Homo sapiens: one gene and its partners. The protein of the gene in region 6 interacts with the protein of the main gene of each other region in a biochemical or structural test. Each region holds a gene or a part of one and is shown on either strand. Other genes may lie near its edges. The genes, in order: SHANK1, PTPN3, PALS2, DLG4, MAGI1, CNTNAP4 and SNTG2.

What was found.
Region 1: the proteins of CNTNAP4 (region 6) and SHANK1 interact in a test that uses a peptide from one of them, tested with the Homo sapiens proteins (one large-scale study listed by IntAct).
Region 2: the proteins of CNTNAP4 (region 6) and PTPN3 interact in a test that uses a peptide from one of them, tested with the Homo sapiens proteins (one large-scale study listed by IntAct).
Region 3: the proteins of CNTNAP4 (region 6) and PALS2 interact in a test that uses a peptide from one of them, tested with the Homo sapiens proteins (one large-scale study listed by IntAct).
Region 4: the proteins of CNTNAP4 (region 6) and DLG4 interact in a test that uses a peptide from one of them, tested with the Homo sapiens proteins (one large-scale study listed by IntAct).
Region 5: the proteins of CNTNAP4 (region 6) and MAGI1 interact in a test that uses a peptide from one of them, tested with the Homo sapiens proteins (one large-scale study listed by IntAct).
Region 7: the proteins of CNTNAP4 (region 6) and SNTG2 interact in a test that uses a peptide from one of them, tested with the Homo sapiens proteins (one large-scale study listed by IntAct).

The regions. Positions count from the first base shown.
Region 1 is NC_000019.10:50,660,803-50,664,302, forward strand, and holds part of SHANK1 (SH3 and multiple ankyrin repeat domains protein 1), read right to left. Parts: intron 1,881-3,500; coding exon 1,163-1,880; 3' UTR 1-1,162. UniProt on the Homo sapiens protein: Seems to be an adapter protein in the postsynaptic density (PSD) of excitatory synapses that interconnects receptors of the postsynaptic membrane including NMDA-type and metabotropic glutamate receptors via complexes with GKAP/PSD-95 and Homer, respectively, and the actin-based cytoskeleton.
Region 2 is NC_000009.12:109,421,808-109,425,307, forward strand, and holds part of PTPN3 (tyrosine-protein phosphatase non-receptor type 3), read right to left. Parts: intron 1,046-3,500; coding exon 911-1,045; intron 1-910.
Region 3 is NC_000007.14:24,677,952-24,681,451, reverse strand, and holds part of PALS2 (protein PALS2), read right to left. Parts: intron 2,322-3,500; coding exon 2,119-2,321; intron 1,061-2,118; coding exon 932-1,060; intron 1-931.
Region 4 is NC_000017.11:7,190,158-7,193,627, reverse strand, and holds part of DLG4 (disks large homolog 4), read left to right. Parts: intron 1-43; coding exon 44-145; intron 146-510; coding exon 511-683; intron 684-1,625; coding exon 1,626-1,735; intron 1,736-2,269; coding exon 2,270-2,361; intron 2,362-2,813; coding exon 2,814-2,920; 3' UTR 2,921-3,470. UniProt on the Homo sapiens protein: Postsynaptic scaffolding protein that plays a critical role in synaptogenesis and synaptic plasticity by providing a platform for the postsynaptic clustering of crucial synaptic proteins.
Region 5 is NC_000003.12:65,377,919-65,381,418, forward strand, and holds part of MAGI1 (membrane-associated guanylate kinase, WW and PDZ domain-containing protein 1), read right to left. Parts: intron 3,209-3,500; exon of another isoform or gene 3,131-3,208; intron 1,637-3,130; coding exon 1,343-1,636; intron 1-1,342. UniProt on the Homo sapiens protein: Plays a role in coupling actin fibers to cell junctions in endothelial cells, via its interaction with AMOTL2 and CDH5. May regulate acid-induced ASIC3 currents by modulating its expression at the cell surface.
Region 6 is NC_000016.10:76,280,401-76,283,900, reverse strand, and holds part of CNTNAP4 (contactin-associated protein-like 4 isoform 1 precursor), read right to left. Parts: intron 1-3,500. UniProt on the Homo sapiens protein: Presynaptic protein involved in both dopaminergic synaptic transmission and GABAergic system, thereby participating in the structural maturation of inhibitory interneuron synapses.
Region 7 is NC_000002.12:1,363,349-1,366,848, reverse strand, and holds part of SNTG2 (gamma-2-syntrophin), read right to left. Parts: intron 1-3,500. UniProt on the Homo sapiens protein: Adapter protein that binds to and probably organizes the subcellular localization of a variety of proteins. May link various receptors to the actin cytoskeleton and the dystrophin glycoprotein complex.

The DNA of each region.
Region 1 (3,500 bases), on a different chromosome or scaffold from region 6:
AAACAGAAAGGGGCAAGGGAGTGGGAGCCTGGCAAAGAAGAAGAGAATGAGCATGTGTGAGAGAAACAGTTTCTGGGAGGCAAGTGTGCAAAAGGCGTGACCAAAAGTGACGGTGCAAAAGGGGCAAGAGGGAAGGCGGGGGGTGGGGGGCTAGGAGTGTCATGGTGAGAGGGGAGAGTTGGGGAGTGGAAGAATCTGGGGTTTTTAAGAATAAGAAGGGAAAGTGCTTCAACGTAAGAAAATGGAGGTAAGAGTGTGTCAGGAGGGGTGCATAAGATAGCAAGTGTGCAAGGGCTGAGCAAAGAGCAGGGCACTCCAGAGAATGAATGATGTGCATGGAGTCTGTGAGGGGGAGGGAAAATGTGTCCCAAGTGTGTCTGCAACAAGGGTCCAGAGCGAGCGGGGAGGAGGAGATGTGAAATGGAGTGTGTAAAGGAGGGCCCTGGTAGGGGAAAAGTGTGTAAGCAGCAAGAAGCAGAGAAGGAGGCATGGAGCGTGAGAAAGGAAATGCAGCGTGTGCGAGGAGAGCAGAGTGTATTTGAGCGGGCCTCGCCAGCCAGAAGCAAAGGCAGAATGTGCAAGACAGCGAGAGGGCAAATTTGTGCAAAATTGCAGCCCGGGGACGGGAGGGGAGAGAGGTGAGCAGGCGTGCAACGGAGCGTGCAAGAGGCTGAGGGGGGCAGCTGTGTGTGCTGGGGAGAGGGGAAGGGGGGAGAGCTGAGGGGCCTGGAGAGAGTGGGAAGGGTTGTTAGAGGGGTGGCAGGTGGTGGAATCCGAGGGCACCCCCTTCCCCTGCGGCCTGGGGGACAGTCCCCATCCAATCGGGCTCAGGGCTGACCCTCTATGGCTCTGTCTATCCCCTCCCCCCAGAATAGGCCCTTCCCTCCTTCTCAATTCCCCTCTGTAATTTCTCCTATCCCCCCTCCGCTCCCCGCTTCACACACACACACACACTCTTGTGTCAGCTGCCCCCCTTCAGTGAGGTGCAAATGTCCGGCCTGGATTGGGCCACCTGGTGACCTCTGGCCTTGGGAGATGAGGGCAGGGCGCAGTTTGAACAGAGTCCCTGGCCCGGGGAGAGAATGACAGTCAGGGGTCAGAGGTCAAGAGGCCAGCAGGCTCAAGAGTTCTGTGGACGGGGCTGGTCCGTCCAGGCCAGCCATCACCTCTCCAGGAAGAATTTGAGAGCCCGGTCGATGTTCATGCGGTGGCCCACCCTGGTCACACCTAGATCGACGTAGTCCTCCTTGGTCAAGGCGGGCAGGTGGGAGCCATCGATCTCGTGGTCCAGGAACTGGGCTCGGTGCTCCGCCAAACCCAGCCACTCCAGCCAATCAGCCACGTCGAACTTGGTCCAGAACCCCAGAGGTTTAGCGCCAAACGGCTTGTCCGGGGGCAGCGAGAGCAGGCGGGTCGGTGAGAGGGAGCGCGAGGCCCCTGACAAGGCTCCCCCGAGCCCCCCGGATATCCCCGGGTGTGGCGGCACAAAGACTGGGGCGAAGGGGTCAGCCGAGCCTCCTGCCCCTCCAGTTGGGGAGCCACGGATGTCAAAGAGGCCTGGGTAGAGGGGTCCGGAAGGCAGGATGGGCAGGGACGAGGGCCTGGGCGCAGGGCTGACCTTGTGCTCCGAGGCGGGCAGCAGCGAGGGGCTGGGGGCCCGGCGGAGCAGAGGGGGCCGCATCTCGAACTCCACGCCCTGGAGGTGGCGGGTGGACGTGGAGGAGGAGGAGGCTGAGGGTGAGGTGGCCCCTGGGGCCGCAGCGGCTGTAGGGGAGACCCCTGTTCCGGTGGGGAGTGGCGGCAGAGGTGGTTTGGGCCAGTTCTGAAACAGGCTGCTGACAGGCTTGGAGAGGAGTGAGGACTGGGAGTCGTCGGAGAGTCTGGAATGTGACAAGGGGGCAGTGGGGGAGGACAGGGATTTAGGGGGCAAGGGCAGGGGTGAGAAAGAGGCAGAGGTCAAGATATAGGGAGAGAGGAGGAGAGACATAAGGGTAGGGGGAGAGACGGAGGAGAGACGGGAAGAAATGGAGGGAGCAAGGGGTAAGACGGCCGGCCGTCGAGGAAAGAAATGAAGGGAGAGAAAGATGAGAGGACAGGGAGAGGGCGACAGTTAAGAGAGATGAAAGAAAAAGAGACATTAAGTGATAATAATAATAATCGTCACCGCTTACTGATGCTCACGTGTGCCAGGCATTGTTCTAAGTGCTTTACATGATTGCATCTCAGTTTAATCCCCACGACAGCCCTGATGCAGGTTACTATTATTATCAGCACAGAGAGGTTAAATAACTTGCCTAAGGACACACAGGAAGTGGCAGAGCCCGGTTATATGGCACCAAAGTCTGAGCTCTTCACCACTATTCTATACTGCCTTTCAGGTTATGGCCAGTCGTAGCAGAGTGAAAGATGGGGAGACAGTGAGAGAGAGACAAAAAGAGGGTGAGCATCCAGGGGAGAGAGATGGAAGGGACAGGGGACACAGAGAGAGAGAGATGAAGAGAGGGAGATGAAAGAGAGAAGAAACAAGGGGAGAAAAAGGTTCCCCTCATCCCTTTCGTTCCCTCCCCTCCAGCACTGTCCCACCTCAGGGCCTTTGAACTGGCTGCTCCCCCTGCCTGGCTCACTCTTGCCCTGGGCAGCTGCTCCCTCTCCACTTTCATTACTCTGCCCACCTTGCCTGTTACATGAGAGACCTTCTCCACCCATCCCATTGTGGTAGCTTTTTTTGTAGGATGGTTGCAATTATTTTGTTTACTGCCCCGCCCCCACTCCTATGTCCCTAGACTATGAGCCCTGTGGAGTTGCACAGTCTTTGCCTGTCCTGTCCAGCAGGGGATCCCATCACCCAGAAGGGCACTCTGCACACATAGGTCATGAGTCAATAATTAATGCAATTGTTGACTGAATTAAGCATCCTTCCTGTTGCTGCTACAAGCAGTGGAAAAAAAAAAAAAGAAAAGAAAAAAAAAATCCTCTTCTCTAACCAGAATACTTAAGAATAGTCAAGGAATTGCATTCAGTTCTTAAAGGCCTAATAAACCCACATTTGTTTGTTTATTTTTACAGCGTAGGAGCATTGATTCAAGTTGCTCTAATAATATACACTTCCTTTTTCTTTTCTTTCTCTCTCTCTCTCTCTTTTTTTTTTTTTTTTTAAGACAGGGTCTCACTTTGTTCCCCAGGCTGCAGTGCCTTGGTGTCATATCAGCTCACTGCAGCCTCAACCTTCCAGGCTCAAGTGATCCACCCACCTCAGCCTCCTGAGTAGCTGGGACTACAGAGGCAGGCCACTGTGCCCAGCCTCCTTTTTCTTTTCTTTCTTTTTTTTTTTTTTTCAACCTGGGAGCATAGATTTAAGTTGCCCCAAATATACACTCCCTGAACCCACATTTGAAGGTCAGACACATTTGGATAGCAGACCTTCAAACAGAATTCAAGTGAACTCTGTAGATGGACAAGGATATTTAAAACCTGCTCCCAACCCTCTGTGTATCTGAAGC
Region 2 (3,500 bases), on a different chromosome or scaffold from region 6:
CATCTCCTCTGTCTGCCTGTCTCCCAGTTTCTCTTAGGCTTAGCAGATCCTGGATCAGGTATTTACAGCCACGCACTCTTACTCCAGTGTGGAGCTGGGGGCAATGATTCCCTGCTAGGTTTCCCCTCTGGCCCCTAGCCTTTTTGGAGGTATTCACAAAAATGGTGTGATGTCTTTGAGGACCATTATAATAAGATAATGATAATTCCACCTGACTCTTTTAAAAGCTTACTACGTACTTGTACATTATTATTTCATTTGCGGTAGTTTTTATCATCTTTTTAGATATGGGGAAACTGAGGCTACAGAGGTAAAGAAACTTGTTAATTAACAGAAGGGCCAAAACCTGAGTTTAGGTCTTTCTGCTACAAACCCAGTGCCCTTCTCACTTTACCAAACGACCACCTATTTCTTTTTAAGCTGAGTCCATCCTCTTAAGTTGGCCTGCTACTTACTGATGTGCATTTGCTTCTGCTGCTGAAGGTCATACATCCTTACATCATTTACATCACGTACCTGCGTTAGTTTTCCCTAAAGTTTATTTTGTGGGATATTAATGGAAAACATGAATTAAGTAAAGCTAACCGTACTTTTTTATTATTGGACGTCTCAGAGTGTTTAATATGCTAATGTGTGCTGTGATTCCAAAGGAGGCCTTTCAGCAGGCTCGAGTTTCCCAAACTATTTAGATTGAATAAGTTTTTTTAAAAAGAGCATCTCAGCATTATACACGATGGAAAACATTTAGCTAGACTTGTGTACTTCATGAAAACAGTTACTTCTGCCAAGAGCCTAAAATGCAAATTGTAGGTCATCTATCTTTAGGAGTTTATAAGTTGAGTTTTTATTTTTAAAAGAGATAAAGTGTCTACTGTTGGGTAGTACAAAAAAAAAAAAAAGGAGGACATACCAGTTGGGAGTAATGGGAGGGGAACGAGAAGGCAGACTCTTGGTTTCTAAGTGCTCCACTGATAAGGATCTCCGCATGGCTGGGTTCCACACCATCCCGCCAATCACCTTTTTGCAATATTGGTTATTTACCGACCTGAAAAACCAGATGCAGGTTCACTTTCTACACTGACGTTCAACAGGAAAGAAATTACTGCATGTGTGAAACAGTCTACACATGCTTCTTGTCTGAAGGACGGCAGGTTAATGCCAAGGTTATGGGGAGTAGAGGGAGACAGCTCAAAAGCGATTCCTGTCTGTCCTGGAATTTCCTTATGTGATTTCTTCTCTTCGGGTGAAAATCCTTTCTTGTCCTCACTACTCAAGCAACAAAGCTGTTTCCAGAATATAACCAAACCTAACCAGATTAGAAGGAATTCCAGGATCACACAGAAATACAGCTCCAGTGATTTCAAGGAATTCTTATTTTATTCACACTGGCCTAAGTAAAAATATTAACCATTTTTTCAGGTGCTCTTCATCATCCTAGCTGGCAGGAGCTGTCACTATAAATCACTGGTAAATCTTTGAGAGAGAATCTGAAAATGCGCTTAGAAAGTAGTTTCAAACTGGGCACAGTGGCTCATGCCTGCAATCCCAGCATTTTGGGAGGCTGAGGCGGGTGGATCACTTGAGGTCAGGAGTTCAAGACCAGCCTGGCCAACATGGCAAAACCCTACCTCTACTAAAAATACAAAAAATTAGCCAGGTATAGTGGCGCATGCCTATAATTCCAGCTACTTGGGAGGCTGAGGCATGAGAACCCCCTGAATCCCCGAGACAGAGGTTGCAGCGAGCCAAGATCGCACCACTGCACTCCAGTCTGGGGAACACAGTAAGACTCTGTCTCCAAAAACAAAAAATTATACAGAGTTTCAGGCTACGTTCTTTGAAATGTGCTACCCTGAAGGTTACTTTTGAATTTTATTTATACCTAGAGAATTTAAATCTTAGCTATCTAGACCCCTCAGAGAATGAATTATTTGAGAGAATAGAGCATGAAGCCTGTCACCCTGTTAAAGGGTGACAACTTTGGTTCTGGCATCTCTAAATTTTAAACTAGGATTTAATGTCTTATGAAAACATTCTACACATTTCCTTGTGACATGACATCAACCAACCAACAAAAACAAAACAGAACAAAGAACAAACAAAAGAACATAAACAATATGAATCGCCCTGTAGCACATCATGTACTAATTCACATTAAGAAATGCTGTTGTCACCCTGATCAAAATGCTCACAACAGCATCACTGGGAGACTCTTTCCTCTGAGGCAGGCCTACATCAGAAACCACACTGCCAGTGATGAAGAGCACAGGATCAAAACAAGGGGAGCAAACTGCCCAACTCCAAGGTTTAATGTGTCATGGGTTATTAATAGGGACTCTCTGAAAAAAAAGTGTTCCATTGTCCCATAAGCTTGGAAAATAACCCAACAAATTTCTTTTTATGTGGAACCTTTCAGAAGGCCCAATAAGCAGATGTGTATCTGTATCTCTAGGGGCTGGGCAAGTCATGTGACCCTTCTAAGCCTCAGTGTCCTCATCTGTAAAATGGAGGTAATGAGACTTGAAATTCACCAGTATGCTGAAGCTGGCACAGGTAGTAAAAGAACTGCTGACTTGTCCTCCCAAGCCATCCTCCCAACCCAAATGATCCCCTGTGGCAGATTAAAGATGACTGCAAGTTCTTTGAGTCTTGCATCTGGGTTGGCTTGTGACTGCTTTCAGCAACAGAGTCGCTGTGCCAGTGCCAGGTCTCACCCTTAAGAAGGCTGAACGGTTCTGCCTTTCGCTCCTGGAACCCTGAGTGTCCATGTAAGAAATTCAACCACCCTCCTGGAGTATCCAGATGGGGATGCTAAGGAGTCCAGGTGAGTCCAGCCTTCCAACCATTCCATCAAGACACCAGGTATGCAAGAGAAGTTATCTTGGATCCTCTGGCCACATTCACTGAGAAATCCCTATCTACACCACACAGAGCAGAAGAGGCCTCTGGCCAAGCCCTTCTAGGATTCCTGACTCACAAAGTCATGAGATATAACAGAATGGGTGTTGCTTTCAGTCACCAAAATAGGGGTATTTTCTTGTGCCACAATACAAGACCAGAACCCAGCCCTGCTGGCATTGGATGCATGCAGATGACAAAGCTTTGCAGATGAAGAAATAGAAGCAACAAATTAAAGCTCAAGTGACAGAGGCAGGATTTGAACCCAGGCAGCTCAGCAACAGAGGGCATGGTTTCAGTTGCCTCCCCATTCCTTCTCTCATCTGGCCTGAGGATCAGGCCCAACCTAAGTCAATGATATAATCCAGTAAGTTATTTTCATGGCTTGCTCAACAGTAGATCTACTGAATGTATACAAATACTAAACAGTATTATAAGAGCTAAAAACTTAATATATTCACTCTTGGTTCATCAGAAGCTGAGAGATAGCATTTAGCACCACAAATAGTATCACTGATACTAACAGAAATTAGCTACTTATTCAGTTTACAAGTTCCCTAATGATTATCAATGTATTAGGAAAGTAACTGGAACAGTCTGAT
Region 3 (3,500 bases), on a different chromosome or scaffold from region 6:
GGTATGTTTTAAATGTCTTTATCTCTTAGATATAAATACTGAAGTATTTACAGATGACATGATATCAAAGATTTGCTTCAAAATAATTCAAGGTGAGGAGGAAGTGGGGAGGGGTCTAATTAAAACAAGAAATTGCCACGATTATTGAAGCTAGGCGATCGGCATAGGGACTCATTTATTCCCTCTTTTGTATATATTTTTGAATTTCCATTAAGTAAAAAAGTAGACAGGAAAAAAAGGAAAAAACATGTAATAGAAACTAAACATCAGAACACCCCACTTTACCAATGATAAACCATATAATAAACATGCCTGTTAATGATCTCGGAGCCCAGTTACCCCACTAGTAAAATGAAGGCGTTCAATTAATACGCATATTTTAATATTGGTCCATTTCATTTTACAAAGGGGAACTAAACTTTTGATTTAAAATAAAGTGTACAATGATTTTCAAGTAAAAGAATACTGTTCCAGATCCTAACTACATCTAATTAATTTTCATTCTGTAGCACCTTATATAGCATGTTTATTTCATAAGCATAATTAGCTAAGAGTTGGCCAGGCACGGTGGCTCACGCCTGTAGTTCTAGCACTTTGGGAGGCCGAGGTGGGCAGATTGCCTGAGGTCAGGAGTTCAAGACCAGTCTGGCCAACATGGTGAAACCCCGTCTCTACTAAAAATACAAAAATTAGCCAGGCCTGGTAGCGCATGCCTGTAATCCCAGCTACTTGGGAGGCTGAGGCAGGAGAATCGCTTGAACCCGGGACGGGGAGGTTGCAACGAGCTGAGATCGCATCAATGCACTCCAGCCTGGGTGACAAAGCAAAACTCTGCCTCAAAAATAAATAAATAAAAATAAATTAGATAACAGTTAAACATGCTCAAAAGAAAAGGAAAGATTTTAGAAGGAAAATCGTATGGTTAGCTCACGGTCAGAAGCTTGGTAGTGATTCCTGCATCCACCACAGCCTTGTGCATGGCACGTAACGTCTCTAGCTCCGGAGCCGCAATAAATACCACATAGGGCATAAACTCTGATGTCCTCAATACTTTCAGTGCCTGTGTAAAAGAATAATTATAAGCCAATTTATACAATATTAGAACTAGAATTCTGCTACCCTTTAGTATATATCAAAGGCTGTTTGCACTTGTTCTATGAATTAAAGGACATAACTTAATACTTATCCCTGTTCTGTCCTTCTCATTCCATATAGTACTTTCTTAAAACAGTGATCCATTTATTTTGTTTTGAACTCAGTCTGTTCCTCTTGAACAAAGTATAAAACAATGATCCAAAAATCATCAAGAGTGATGTAAACTCTTTTTTATGTTAATTGTAGAATTCTGTTAATACTCAAAAAGTAGAAATAACCTCAATGTTGATTAATTGGAGAGTGGTTAAATGAATATATATTCATACTATATAGCAATTACAAAGAAAAAAAGCTCTACAGTAACTACCACAAAAAGATCTCCAAGGAATAGTTCTATTTAATAAAACCCCTGAAGAATCTATATAGAATTTTTCCATTTATGTAAAAAGAAACAACAAAAACAGAAAACCCATTACCTTATATATATTTGTATTTAAGGCATAGTGAAATGACTAGAAAGAGACATAAGAAACTATTAACAATTTTTATCTCTGAGTAGGGACGTGAGGTTGGGCTGAGTGTAGCGGAGTGGGAAGGGGTAGGTGACAGAAATATAGAGTGACAAAATGAATAGTGTAGAGGTGTGCATGTGTGTCAGGTAGGAGGGGGAGTGACTTTAATTTTTTATTCTTTATATTGCAGACTTGAGTTTTAAACTTAACATTTCTTAACACAAGCACTTATGCATTACTTGAACAGGTAAATAAATACATACTAAACTTCTATTGTAGATCTAATCACACAGTTTCTATTGCCACCCAAGCCTCTGTTGGCTAATTGTTCAGAGATTTATTTAACTAGCTATGTATACATAATAACATTCTCTATCACCCAAAGGTAATGGAGGGAGTCACCTTTCCACCCTGACAAAACAAACAACCCCAACCCAACAACCCCGACACACATGAAAAAAACTCCACAGAAAATAAAATATAAAACAGCTTTGGAATCCAAGCAGCTTACTTGTGGGTTGACATCCAGAATGCAAGTCCGTCCAGTTTGGACAACCTCAAGAATAGAATCAATTTTGGTTCCATAGAGATTTCCTTCATATTCCCCATGTTCCAAATACTTTCCAGCTTTAATATCTGCTTCCATCTCAGATCGTGACACAAACTTATATGCCTGGCCATCTTTTTCATCTTCCCTTGGTTTCCGTGAAGTAACTAAATAAAATAGTGTTGAGATTTTTGTACAAAGAAATTTTAGGGCATAAAAAATAGACTAAAATACATAGGGTGGCTTAACGTTTTTCCACTGGGTGCAGCAAACTGTAGGCTATGACCAGATCTGATCTGCTTCTTATTTTTGTAAATAAAGTTTTATTGGACCACAGCCATACTCATTTGTTTATGTATCATACATGGTTTCTTTCCCATTAAAATGGTGGTAGTAATTGTGACAGACTGTATGGACTGCGAAGCCTAAAACTTTACCATGTGGCCCTTTAATAGAAAAGTTTCTTGATACCTTAGGGGAATATTTTAAGAGGTAGTCCCCCAAATAAAATTTGTATCCAAAAATATGCTTCTTAAAATCACTTTGAAACTCAAAGTATATTTACCTAGCAGCAGAGCCTTCAATGAAGTTCTTAATTATGGTAAGTGTTTGAGGCATGTTGTGAGTGAGTATCTTTTCAACTGACCAGCACTCTCCTTCTCCTTAGGAATCTATTACATCTTTTCTTTCCACATTAACACTTCCTAACTGCCCCAAAACGTGAGCAAGCAAAGTTCACCTGTTCTTAGTTGTGATACCAATTTTGTAAAGTGCAGTTTTACCCACAAATTATCTATCTTTTATCTTACCTCAAAACCAACGCTTTTAGCTTCCTGTTTATTGATATTCCCAAATGTTAACTGTTCTATTTTATACTTCAGTGGTAGAGCTAGACGCCTCATTATTATTATGGTCTATTAACCTCCTCTCCTCTGACCTGACATATTATTTCTGGGAAAATGAGATTGAATAGCTCAAGTCAAAATTTAGAAGTAGGAGATCCTTTTGTCTGATATTTTACAGCTTTGAATACTTTCAGAGACATACAACCCTTTGCAAGTTGGTCTGTGCTAGGAACGGTTATTACCATTTTTTAAACTGTTGCAAATGTGTACTCTCTGACAACTTTGTTAACAACAGCTTTGAAGAAGAAAAGTAATTTTTGAGCGTGTTATTTCAAGCTTAGCCTTACTCTGGGCTTTGCTGGATCGGATATAAGAAGTATCCTGTTTCTATTAGCTAAGTAGTTGGAGAATAACTGATGGAATTATTAACTACACCAAACTAAACTAAGAAAGTAATCCGAATAAAAAGATGACAGTGTTTTGACTATTTCTAATAAGCCT
Region 4 (3,470 bases), on a different chromosome or scaffold from region 6:
TCCCCCAACCCTGCGCTCGGCCTAAGCCAGGCTCTCTCTGCAGTGCACTATGCTCGCCCCATCATCATCCTTGGGCCCACCAAGGACCGCGCCAACGATGATCTTCTCTCCGAGTTCCCCGACAAGTTTGGATCCTGTGTTCCCCGTGAGTGCTGGGGCCTTGGATGGAGGAGAAGGTGGAAGTGGGGGTGGGGCAGGGGAGGCCCATCCCTGGGGCCATAGGCAGAGCCTCCTGGGGGATCGGTGTGTAGGGAGATACAGGGTTTCTCCGAGAAGGGGTGCTTCTCAGCCACCCTCTCATTCCATAGTACCCATGCCCAGGCCAGAGACTTGGAGGCCCTGGAGGGTGCTAGGGGAAGCGGTTCTGGCCCTCTGCAGTCTTGGTCTCCCTGGCAGCTCCCTTTCACCAAAGGACCAGCTGGGCACTATGGGGATTTGATTGAAGTAGGCAGGATTTAAGCTAGAGGGATGGTGGTTAGATCTTTGGGGGGTGGGGTGACTTCCTGGCAGATACGACACGGCCCAAGCGGGAGTATGAGATAGATGGCCGGGATTACCACTTTGTGTCGTCCCGGGAGAAAATGGAGAAGGACATTCAGGCGCACAAGTTCATTGAGGCCGGCCAGTACAACAGCCACCTCTATGGGACCAGCGTCCAGTCCGTGCGAGAGGTGGCAGAGCAGGTAGGACCTGGCGGGCACCCGGTCCTCTTCCTTCTCCCCTCTCCCCACCCCACTGCCTCCCTCCAGCTTTCTCTAACTCTCTCTCTCTCTGTCTCTTTCCCTGCTGGGTCTCCACTCCGCTCCTCCACCTCCTTCTCCTCTTGGGCAACTCTGTCTGACTGCCTGCTCTCTGCCCCTGCTCTCTCTCCCACCTCCCTCACTTCCTGACCCCAAATTCCCCACCACCATCTGGCCTCTTTCTCTCCCCACTCCCTTCTCCTTGCCCCATTTCTCCTCTCTTCCCATGGCCTTGTCTTTGGTGGCTTGGCCTTCCCCACTGGGTCCCTCCCTTTTTCCTGACTCCCCGCTGGCCCTCTCCCCTGCCTCACCCTTTTCTGGGGCCCGGCTCCCCTCTCCCACTCCTCTGCTAACTCCTTTCCTTTCCCCGCTGCTCCTCACCCTGCCCTCCCTCCCTCCCTCCACGGTTCCTTTCTCCATCTGCCTCACTCCCTCCCATCTGTCTCCTTGTTCCTTCCATCTGTCTGTCCTCTGTCCGTCCTCCCCTCCCTCCTCCCTCTATCCTACTTCCTTTCTCCTTTTTCTTGGCTTTCCTTCCCGCCTGTGTCACCTCTGCCTTGCACACCCCGCCCCACTCGCTGCTGCCCCGGCTCTGCCACCATCTCTTGGGTCCCTGCCTGCCTGGTGCTCCTCCCTTCCTCCATTCTGTCCTGTCCCTGCCCTCTCCCGTGCTCTCCATCTTCCCTTTCCTTTCCCTCTGTCTTTTACTCTGTCCATACCCGCTTCCTGCCTGACTCTCTGCCCCCGTGTTTCTTGACATCCATGTCACTCCCCTTCGGCCAACTTCCCATTCCCCACCTCTCCCCGTCCGTGTCCCTCCGGCACTGCTCTCTGTCCTTTCTCGCCACCCGCTGGCCCCCCTCCGCCCACCCTGCCTGCCCCCAGGGGAAGCACTGCATCCTCGATGTCTCGGCCAATGCCGTGCGGCGGCTGCAGGCGGCCCACCTGCACCCCATCGCCATCTTCATCCGCCCCCGCTCCCTGGAGAATGTGCTGTGAGTATGGTCCTGGGGGCCTCCCCTTTGCTCCCCCAACACCTGTGGCCCTGGGCCTCACAAGGCGTCTGCGTTCAACTCTCCCTTCAGAACCCTGGACAGCGGTTTCAGCAGCCCCTGAGGGGGATCCCTGGAACCCAGAGGATGTGGGGGAATCGGGTCTTTCCCCTCCTCTCCTGCCTTGGCTAGACAGGACTACATTTCCCAGCAGCCCCTGGGGCATACCAGCTGGGGCGAGTCAGGGCCTCTAGGGCTGTTGGGAATTGGAGTCCGAATCCCATCTCTGGGGCTGAAGGCTGGAAGGATGAAGCTCCGTAGATGTCCCTGGAGTAGCCACACCTGGCTGGGGCGGTTGCGGGTGGCAGGGGGGTGGGGGGTGGTTCTCATCTGTGGCCCCAGAGGATATTGGGAATTGTATTTTTTTTTTTGCTATGTGCTCCAAATAGAAGAATACTTAACATTCCTGGATAGAGGAGATAAAAGGCAGGGTCAGGTGGGTCCAGTCTCAGGCCTGCTCTCCCTCCCTCTTCACAGAGAGATTAACAAGCGGATCACAGAGGAGCAAGCCCGCAAAGCCTTCGACAGAGCCACCAAGCTGGAGCAGGAGTTCACAGAGTGCTTCTCAGGTGAGGCCACAGCAAGGCTGTTGCCAGCATGTAGGGTGCCCTTGCTCGGATTAGAAAGAGCTCCCCCGCCACCCCCAGTGGATGGCTTAGAAAGAGGTGCCCCTGTGGGCGCGGCATGGTGGCTCACGCCTGTAATCCCAGCACTGGCGGGCACCTGTAATCCCAGCTACTCGGTAGGCCGAGGCAGGAGAATCGCTTGAACCTGGGAGGCAGAGGTTGCAGTGAGCCGAGATCGCACCACTGCACTCCAGCCTGGCGCTAAGAGCAAAACTCAATCTCAAAAAAAAAAAAAAAAAAAAAAAAGAGGTGCCCCTGTGGGCGGGTGCAGCCCCAGGACTTATGGCTTGGAGAGTTGGAAAGAGGTGCCCCTTCCTCTGGGCTGGTGCAACCCCCTTGGCCAGGTGTCCTCTGGCCCTTCCTTGGCCTCACTCCCTGCTCCACCCCACTCCCAGCCATCGTGGAGGGTGACAGCTTTGAGGAGATCTACCACAAGGTGAAGCGTGTCATCGAGGACCTCTCAGGCCCCTACATCTGGGTTCCAGCCCGAGAGAGACTCTGATTCCTGCCCTGGCTTGGCCTGGACTCGCCCTGCCTCCATCACCTGGGCCCTTGGTCTGGACTGAATTGCCCAAGCCCTTGGCTCCCCCCGGCCTCCCTCCCACCCCTTCTTATTTATTTCCTTTCTAACTGGATCCAGCCTGTTGGAGGGGGGACACTCCTCTGCATGTATCCCCGCACCCCAGAACTGGGCTCCTGAACGCCAGGAACCTGGGGTCTGGGGGGGAGCTGGGCTCCTTGTTCCGAGCCCTTGCTCCTTAGGATCCCCGCCCCCACCTGCCCCCAATGCACACACAGACCCACCGGGGGCCACCTGCCCTCCCCCATCCTCTCCCACACACATTCCAGAAGTCAGGGCCCCCTCGAGGAGCACCCGCTGCAGGGATGCAGGGCCACAGGCCTCCGCTCTCTCCTAAGGCAGGGTCTGGGGTCACCCCTGCCCTCATCGTAATTCCCCATGTTCCTTGATTTCTCATTTATTTTTTCCACTTTTTTTCTTCTCAAAGGTGGTTTTTTGGGGGGAGAAGCAGGGGACTCCGCAGCGGGCCCCT
Region 5 (3,500 bases), on a different chromosome or scaffold from region 6:
TGAGCTCTACTGGATGAGAATGCTAAAGGGTTGTAGCACCTTGCTGATTCTAGCCAGTTTCCATGTGGATAAGTCATTCAGGGATAGAGCTGAGGTACATGAAAAGCCCACACAGCCTGCACAGCCCTTCCCCTTCTCCCATTGTATTCCATAGTAAGTAACAAATGTGCTTGGGAGATAACAAATGACTTTTTACCCAATCAGGAAGGTGGATCATTTTTGGAGTGTACATCTATAATCAATCCATTGCAATGGGAAGCAGATTCATATATCACTAGTTTCTGCAATCATCTGGGTTTCTATTGGTCTTTGCTAGTGTACCCAGAAGAGAGTGAATCCTTCTGAGAAAGTGACAACTGTGTTTCTCCATACTTTGCTGAAACCCTCAATGTCTGGACGAGACAGGAAAATCGAATGACTCTTAACTCAGATTTTAACCAGACTTTAAATCAAGCAACAGTAAAAATATTATTTAAAATTAAAAAAAATTCCTATGGGGATAGAGTAGAGAAAGAACACAGATGAGGCAGACTAGCATCTCATGTAGTATTTTTACTCCTTACACCTCTGTTTTTCCTAGAGCATTTTTACAGCCGTATGCTCCTTGTAAAAACTCTTAAGACATTCTTAAGACCATTCTGAGGCCCTTGCAATTAGTGCTATCCTATTCAAGACCTTTCGAAAGCCTTGCTTTGGCAAAAACTGTAGACTCTGTATGCTGTCCAGGGGTTCCTATTCAAATTTCTTTTCTTTCCTTTCCTTTTCTTTTTTTTTTTTTTTTAAGACAGAGTCTCGCTGTGTCACCCAGGCTGGAATGCAGTGGCACAATCTCGGCTCACTGCAACCTCCACCTCCCAGGTTCAAGCGATTCTCTTGCCTCAGCTTCCCAGGTAGCTGGGATTACAGGCATGCACTACCACGCCCAGCTACTTTTTGTACTTTTAGTAGAGACAGGGTTTCACCACGTTGGCCAGGTTGGTCTCAAACTCCTGACCTCAAGTGATTCACCCTCCTCGGCCTCCCAAAGTGCTGGGATTACAGGCGTGAGCAACAGCGCCCGGCTGCTATTCAAATTTCACGCAAATCTGATGTATGCTTTAAGTTGTGTATGCGTGATCACATTCTCAGTGTGGAAGTTGAAAGGGTTGAACAAATATTCCCAACCTTCAAAAGGGAAAAAGCTACCAAATCAACTCCATCTCCAATTAAGTCTTTAATTACCCAGAGCAAGAAGCTATAAAGCATTTCTGCACGTGAGGTCTGAGTCAGCTTTCACTCGCAAGAGAACAAAAACTCCCAGGCATGGTGGGAAACCCTGGGTAATTTCACGTTCAGCACTCACCAAAGGTCGTGCCTGCTTCGGGCCTGCTCACCGAGGACACGATGACGAAGCCGAAGCCCTCGTTCTCCCCGCGCCGGATCTCCACGTCGTAGGGCTGCACCACGGTGCTGACCACGCCGCTGCCCCCGCCGCCGCCACTGCCGATGCCGCTGGTGCTGCCGCTGCCCGAGCTCACCGTGTTCAGCGAGTTCTGGCTGCCCTGCGGAGTGCGCTTCTCTTCTGTCAGCGAGGCCGGCTGGTTGCTACTGTGATGAGAGGAGGCTGGCGAGGGCACCTCGTTCTCGGTTTTGGGCACTGTAGCAGAGAGATGCACGCGTACATCACCGTGTCCTGCAGCCCCTCCATCCTGCTGCCCCTCCCTCCTTCCAGCAACTCCTGCTAGAAATCAAAACGTGAACCGAGGGGAGGAGACAGCACCTGGTTTCACAATACCTGGATATACGGATTGAAAGCAGCTTCTCTTGACAAATATTAACCATTCAGTATCTACGAACATTGATCCCACCTAACACCAAATGGGACTCCCAAATAGCGTTTGTTGTTTATAGCATGCTATATGTCGACATCCACACTCAGAATCAAGTCTGCAGCAAGATCGGCCTGCTGTGAAATATTTCCCCATTGCACAAAGGGAAGGGCCTAAGCGTAGGTGAGGGCTACACCCGTGAAGACCGCCATCTTGGCTTCATAGATACAACCTTGGATGCACGTTCACATTGTCATTACTTTCCAGTCACATTTCCACCCAGCTTTTTCCATCAGGCGACAAACAGTAAGGTGATGGTAACGTTGAGGCTACCCGCCCTATGTGGGGTTCATGACAACACCTGTGAGACATACACATGCTTCTCTTCTTAGCTTCCAGGTGTCAACATCGACTCTGATCACAGAACTGGATACACTGGCCTCCTTCTGAATTTAGTCACCGTTCTAGTGTTACCATCAGACTGCAAGGTAAAGCACTCCTAAATAGCCAACACCGTAGGTGGAACCAACTATGCCAAAAAACAAAATGTGTGTTGTGTCCAAGTTTTGGATCAGACTGTATTTATTTCCAAAAGCTTCTCTTTTCATAGATTGTTTTAATTTTGGAAAAATAAGCATAACAAATTTTTAAACCATTTTTAAGCATACAGTTGAGTGGTATTAAGTGCATTCACATTTTTGTGCAACCATCATCATCATCCATCTCCAGAATTTTGTCATTTTCCCAAATTGAAACTCTGTACTCATTAAAAACTAATTCCCCTTCCTATTTCCTCCACCCCCCACCAACCATCATTCTGCTTTCTATCTCTATAAATTTGACTACCCTAGGTATCTCATATAAAGGGAATCAATATTTCTCCTTTTGTGACTAGTTCACTTGCATAATGTCTCTTCATAGATTTGACACGCCTTTTACACAGAGCTAAAAATCCAAAATATTTAAGATTTAAAAAAATAAACCTGAAACAACAAAAAAAATCACATTGCCTTACTATTTCTATTTGGGCCAGGGAAGCGAGATAGTTAGTTTTCATCTCATCTCAAAAACTCGTTCCAGCTGACTGCTTTTAGCTACATGGAATAGTATGTTAAGAAGGATTGTGAGGTCACAAACACACTGGAATTTAACATCTTAATTCTATAATTAATCATATACCATTTAAAATGGGTTATACTCTTTTTTTTTAAAAGAAGTTACCAATTAATTTTATCTGACAGGTATCTGTTTCACTAATATGAATGCCAAGAGAATTCATAATATTTCAGGTCATATTTCTCCAGTAATTCCACTGATAGAAGACAATCACCTCTGCTGCACTCTGGGTTCTGCCTTAAAGGTTTCAAGGTGGGAGCTGCATCCAAAGGTGAACAACCAAGGTGTGTTCAACGTGAGCTTTCAAGGGAAAGGACAAACACTCACACAATTCACTGTCTCAAAATGGCAGATTCTGATACAGCAGTAAACCATGAGTCACTAGAATGGCAAGGAGGGAATGCTAAAATCTGAAGGCAGTTGGAGGAAGGAGGAATTTCCAAGGGAAGAAAGTTATATTTGAGCTGAGCCTGAAAGGATATGTAGTATTTTGAGAATTAAAGTTCAAAGCTTATGGGCAGGAAGAAGGAATCAAAGCTGACCTAGAACTGGCCAGCTCTACAACTTTCTTGTAGA
Region 6 (3,500 bases):
TCATTCTGTAAACTTTCAGTCAGTGAAAACAAAATGAAAATATTTTTTAAAGGATAGTGAAGGACTTCTTTTGTTTGTTTAACTTTTATTTTTTAAGTTCAGGGGTACAAGTGCAGGTTTGTTACATAAGTAAACTTGTGTCATGGGGGTTTGTTGTATAGATTATTTCAACACTCAGGTATTAAGCCTAGTACCCATTAGTTATTGTTCCTTATTCTCTCTCTCCTCCCACTCTCCATCCTCCAAAAAGCCCCAGTGTGTGTTGTTTCCCTCTATGTGTCCATGTGTTCTCATCATTTAGCTCCCACTTATAAGTGAGAACATGCAGTATTTGGTTTTCTGTTCCCTTGTTAGTTTGCCAAGAATAGTGGTCTCCAGCACCATCCATGGCACTACAAAGTATGTGATCTCATTCTATTTTGTGACTACGTAGTATTCCACGGTGTATATGTACCAGTTTTCTTTATCCAGTCTATCACTAATGGGCACTTAGGTTGATTCCATGTCTTTGCTATTGTAAAGAGTGCTGCAATGAACATACATGTGCATGTGTCTTTATAACAGAACGATTTCTTAAACAACCTGGGACTAATTGGCAACCTAAAGGTCATATGATTCATTAGTGAACAATATTAAGGCCTCAATATTGTTTAATCTGAAGTAGAATAGCTTTAAATTTTAAACATAGTATTTAAACAAGAAAAATCGGTATTTGTAGAGCAGAGCTGATATTCTATTTTTAAAAACTCAAAGCCATGTAATGCCAATGTCATTATCCCTAATCGTTGTCTACTTACAGTGGATGATCACGAATCTCATCACAATTCCTTTGACACTCAGAGAAAGTCATATTTCAGTTAAGCTCTTTGAGACTATCCTAGTTTTTTTGGTGGGGGGGTTTATTTTCTTTTTGGAAATTGGCCTTTTGATGAGACTTAGAAATCTTCATTTAAAGCTGAAGCACTAAAAACAATATAATGAAAAAATAAACTATTTTAACAAGTGACCATTTGTTTTGAAAAAAAACTGAAAAAATGAAAATGGGTTTTTAAATGATATTACATCATATTTTTAATTTAATTTTTCAAAAAACTGTAGGAAAAAGTATAGCGTAAATAAAATGGGGCCAAAGATCAGTTCCTGGAATTCTAAAATAAATACAATTTCAAATACACAAACCATTTACCCAGAAATTTATTATTGACAAGGGTAAGTGAAAATCACTTGCTTAAATATCATGAGCTCTTAGTGGGCAGTGCTTAAATGAAAATCTATTTTTCAGTTTATTCTAGAAAGTTGGCCAATTTCAGAATTTTTAGAAAGCTGCTGCTTTAAAAGTCACAGGAGCAAAAATACTCTTCTATCAAAAACATTTTCCTCATATGATCTTTGATTCCAAATGTAAGTTGCTGATTAAGATAGAGTGGAATATTTTATACTCATGAAAATGTAAAATAACAGCAGAATTTTTGTTCAAAACATCTAAGTTGCAATTACTTGTACAGTTAATTGAACTTATATTACTTATATACTTCATTGAACTTATATTACTTATATATTTCATCAAATATCTTATCCTAACAAGACCACTTGAGATTAAAACTGTGGGAATTTTACAAATAATTTATACCCACTGAAATATCAAGATTTTTGAACAATAAAGTCTTTAAGAAAAAACATACAAGGAAACATTAACTTGAAGATATCCTCTGTTACAGTTCCTGGCAATAATAGCATTGCGTTCAGTACCACAACTCTGCAAGTATATATTTGTGTGCTAAATAATTAAGACTAAATTTTATCATAGAAGTATAATTTATACACTTTTCATGTCTTATCATTTTATTGTATATTATTTAAATAGGGGTCAATTAACTTTTTATATAAAGTGCCAGAGAGTAAAGAATCTTATGTAAGTAGTTACATAGTAAGAGGGTAAACAATCTTAATAAAATTTAATTGATAAAATTCAAAATATAATACTAATATTTGAGTAGAAATTTTTGTCATGCAGGTTTACTAATAAGTGGAAGAATAAAATTTGAATTTCATATAATTATTTTTTACCATGAAGAATTCTTCTTTTAATTTTTTTCAGCTAAAAATGGAAGAACTATTCTTAGCCCATGGGTCATACAAAAACAGTCACTACTAGCAGGTCAGATTCAGCCCATGGGCCACAGTTTACCAACCTGAGTTAAATATTTTATTATCTTATGATAGATGTTATATAATTCTATTAATCTATTTTCTTTAACAAAAGTCAATTTAATCTTGATATACTCATTAGCTCCAATACAGAAATTGCTTACATATGATATAAATTCCAAAATTAATTTTACAAGACAATAATCTTTATTTCCTAGAGTAAGCACCAGGTATTATGTGAAAGTTATGTTTGATCCCCATGTTGGCCCATGAGTCACGTTATCTCCAGAGCTAGAGGCTGCCTTTATCAGAGATTATTGAGATGCATGTAATAAGAAGTGGAGAAAATGGACTGAATAGATGAAAATAAATCACCATTGCTATTAGAAAAGTGAGTCAAAGTACGTGCTGATCTTTATAGGGGCTAGCCATTTATGCATTGCCTCATAGAATTATATTTTATCAGTACTTTACTATTGCATTCTAGTTATTTTCTGCTATAGGAGTAAATATGGTGGGGGGAGGAAAAGAAAGTAGCTTCTAGAAAGAATTACAAGGTTGAGTTTTAACAATGTGAGAATCTGTCCAGCTGTCTCCCAGGACCCACAAGAGTGATCATCTACTTAGGCAATTTGCCTTCATCTATCCTTCAGTGCTTCTTTTAGGGTAGGTATCAGATACGGCCTTTATTTCCATCAGAGAAAAGAAAGAACACAGTGAGATGTTAACTTCTAATTAAGTCATTGGGGAGCATTAATTATTCTCAAGAGTACGGCTCAGTATACCAGTAACTAGAGAGCCTCCCTCACATAATCTGCAAGAGTTAAAATAAAAGCAAACTCTTATCAGCCTTACTACTGTACCCATTCCTTCTTTTGGGGTAAGTTGACCCCATCTTCAACCATGTCTTAATGTTCAAAAACTGGATTTATAAGAGCTATTAAAAAATAGAGAAATGTCTCTGTTCTTAATGCATGTCTCTTAGTAGCAAGCAAAGAAACCAAGAACAGCCAGTGCAGCTTCTCAAAGAGCACACCCATCTGCAAGGATCCGTCTCTAAACTTTGATGGAAGGGACACTTCAATATAATTGTAAAAGCTCATCTTGATGAGAACAAAGAGAAAAAAATTATGGCTAGTCCACTGCTTTTGAAATGTCAGACAGGATACTAGTAGGCAGGGAGCGTGGTTCATTCAACATATTTCATCTTTAGACAGATAAGTACTTAACAGGGCCACCAAAAATATGCAAGCACATGAGTCTAGTAGTTTACAGATATCTACATACACATATACGTATATACAAATGAGCACGAGTCTAGTAGTTTAGATATCTACATACACATATACCTA
Region 7 (3,500 bases), on a different chromosome or scaffold from region 6:
GGCCGCCCTTGGGAGGAACAGTGCCTGCTGTGTGGGTGCATGTGGGCTTCATGCCAAGGCCACGCTTGGGAGGAACAGCGCCTGCTGTGTGGGTGCGTGTGGGCTTCATGCCAAGGCCACGCTTGGGAGGAACAGCGCCTGCTGTGTGGCGCAGAATAGGCAGTGTGCACAGCACGGCGGGAAGCGAGGAGGGGCCTTGTTCACCCACCCTGTCCCCATGGCTACGGGAGAGCAGGAAAGGGTGCCCCAGGGAGAGTTTCCTAGAGAGACGGTTATACCCCTACCCCCTCCCAATAAAAAAACTGAAACAAACTCCTGGATCCTTACCTCCGCATGTTACAGACACTAAATGTCCTGTAAAAGCAAAAATGACCCACAAAAGGTTCATCTTCTCTCCACAAACTGCCCCACATAAAGTCCCTGTGTCAAATCAACAGAAAAGTCCACAGTGAACCCCAAAGCTGACACAGAAGTTAAAGAAACTGTTTTTAGAAGTTATTCAGTTACTGGGGAAAAATCATCTTCCTGTTTTTGATGGTAAAATACGAATCTTGCCGTCCTGCCACCCCCATTCTATTGGTAGAAAAGAAGGTCTAAGTGCATTCTTCTAATGTTGTCTTTCTTCTTTGTTTGCATAACAAAATTCAATAAAATGAAGAAAATAAAATTTATTTTGAGGTGACTGCTAATTGATTGACATCCTATTTTCTAAATCTCACCAAAATTCTAGCATATTCTAAACTGCTGAGATGACACCAGAAAGAAAGATAAATCATTTTCAAGAAGAAGAGCAACGCTAAGGCCTGTCAGTTCCACAGACATGCTCCTTTAAGCTCTCGAAAGGCAGGATCTTGGTCATTTTCATTCCATGGCAGAATGAGGGGGTGGAGAATGGGGCCCCAGGCAGGATTGGAGGTCACACATCACCGGGTAAAGCCCTCCCTCCCCAATAACATCCATCTCAGCTTTTCGGAGCTGCTTTTCTTTATAACTCAAAGACGTGACATCTCAAAAATGACTTCAAACTTCCCTGACAGCATGAAGTCCCCTCGGCCTCTCCCTGGTCCTCTCTGCATGCCTTTCTTTTAGAAACTGCTTCTCTCTTGCAATAGGTACAGGACCCAGCTGGACCAGCCAGAGCCCAGTGGCAGCTTGGTACAGATGACAGGGAGAGGGAGGCCAAGATGCCTACATTGGTGTGACCAGCTGTGAGAAGTGAATACCTGAAGCTTGTTCTAATACCACTAATGCCAAGTGGAGAGCCAGCGAGCCAGCCTGCCGGAAGAGGACTTCAACACAGAGGAACACCCCATGCAGGGATACACAAAGAACACTGGGGGACATTGGGTACCAACATGCTGGGAGCTGCCCCCAACCTCCTAGTGACTGCAACCAAAGGCTTCATCTTTCCTTTATTCCAATTTGAATTAAGTTCCTTCCTATGCATGTGAATGACTCTTAACATTGACAGCTACAACACTAATTATTTTGATCATTTCAAATTGTGATGAGCAAAATGTTCAAGATGTTGAGGTGTATTCTCCTGCCAAAGCTTCATAGTCTTTAGGTAGTTTCATAAAGCGTCATTACACTTGGTAACCAGCATCCCTCACTCTGGTCATGAGTGGAACCCAGGGCCTGCCCAGCCCTTGTGTTAAACTTTAATTCAAGCTGGATTCGCCAATCATACCCAAAGCGTGAGACTGTACTCAAAATCTTTTATTCATTTTGACTTATCCCTGTTAGAGGAAAAAAAAAAAACCAAGTAGCTTTCTAGAAGAAACACAAGGTTCTTGCAAACTTAGCACATATTGTAATTCAATGTATGTATGTGTTTCCAAATAGCAATTACTGAGCTTTAAAGGGACTTTTGGAGAAAAAGAGCCATAATGACCATATCATTCATGCTTCAGGGTTTTGGGTTAATTTTATTTTTTTTGAGACGGAATCTCACTCTGTCGCCCAGGCTGGAGTGCAGTGGCACAACCTCCACTCACTGCAAGCTCCGCCTCCTGGGTTCACGCCATTCTCCTGCCTCAGCCTCCTGAGTAGCTGGGACTATAGGTGCCTGTGACCACACCCAGCTAATTTTTTTTTTTTTTTTTTTTTTTGGTATTTTTAGTAGAGATGGTGTTTCACCATGTTAGCCAGGATGGTCTCAACCTCCTGACCTCGTGATCCGCCCATCTCGGCCTCCCAAGTAGCTGGGACTACAGGCGCCCACCACCATGCCTGGCTAATTTTTTTTTGTATTTTTAGTGGAGACAGGGTTTCATGTGTTAGCCAGGATGGTCTCGATTTCCTGACCTCGTGATCTGCCAGCACCGGCCTCCCAAAGTGCTGGGATTACAGGCGTGAGCCACCGCGCCCGGCCAGGGTTTTGGTTTTATACATAGAAACTGAAAATTGCTTTACAAGTTCCCAAGATGTATCCAATAATAGCACAATGCACAGAAATAAGAAGCCAAACAGCTACCAGTAATAATGCACATATTCAAAACAACATCAATAGTTTTTGGTACCATAAGTTGAAGTTACACTGCATAATCTTTGAAAGTACTAGCAATGGCTGGGTATGGTGGATCACGCCTGTAATCCCAGCACTTTGGGAGGCCGAGGTAGATGGATCACCTGAAGTTAGGAGTTTGACACCAGCCTGGCCAACATGGTGAAATGCTGTCCCTACCAAAAAAAAAAAAAAATACTAAAAATTAACTGGGCATGGTGGCAGGTGCCTGTAATCACAGCTACTTGGGAGGCTGAGGCACAAGAATCACTTGAACCCGGGAGGCGGAAGTTGCAGTGAGCCGAGATTGTGCCATTGCACTCCAGCCTGGGCAACAAGAGTGAAACTCTGTCTCAAAAAAAAAGAAAATAAAAGAAATTACTAGCTAGCAGTGAAATCGGTCACACCACTAAATTCCACACTAAAACTCAATGAGTAGTACTGAAAGCCAGGAATGAAATTAAAGCTTATGAAACAATACTCAATCCATTATGTCATGATCCAGATACTGAATAAACAAGCATCCTGTGGGCATTTCACTGAACATCTTCAATTCAGCCAAAAGCTGAGTCATGATATCTCTGGTCTGGTTAATTTTCTAACCAAGTATTACCAGCAAGGCTATCTTGAATTATGAATTTTTAACTAGAGCTGATTGAAATCACATTTTGACATTTTGTTTGAACAAAATACTTGTGTTGAGTTCTAAGCTGGGGACACCCTGTATGGATCCCTCGCTGCACTCCTCACCTGTGTTCACATGTCGGTCATGGGCTGATGTGTTTCCACCTGCAGAGGAAAGGGCACCTGCTGGCTCTCTGTGCAGGAAACAGTGTGGAATGAACAGTCCAATATGTTGGGTTAGGGAGTGTCAGCCTAATACAATGACAGAGAGAGGCTCTCCCAAAGTTTATTTGGGACTATGTAGGCAATTGCAAGCTGGGACATATGTGCTATAAGAGATTATAGGGATATCCAAAGAGGCTGGGATTCA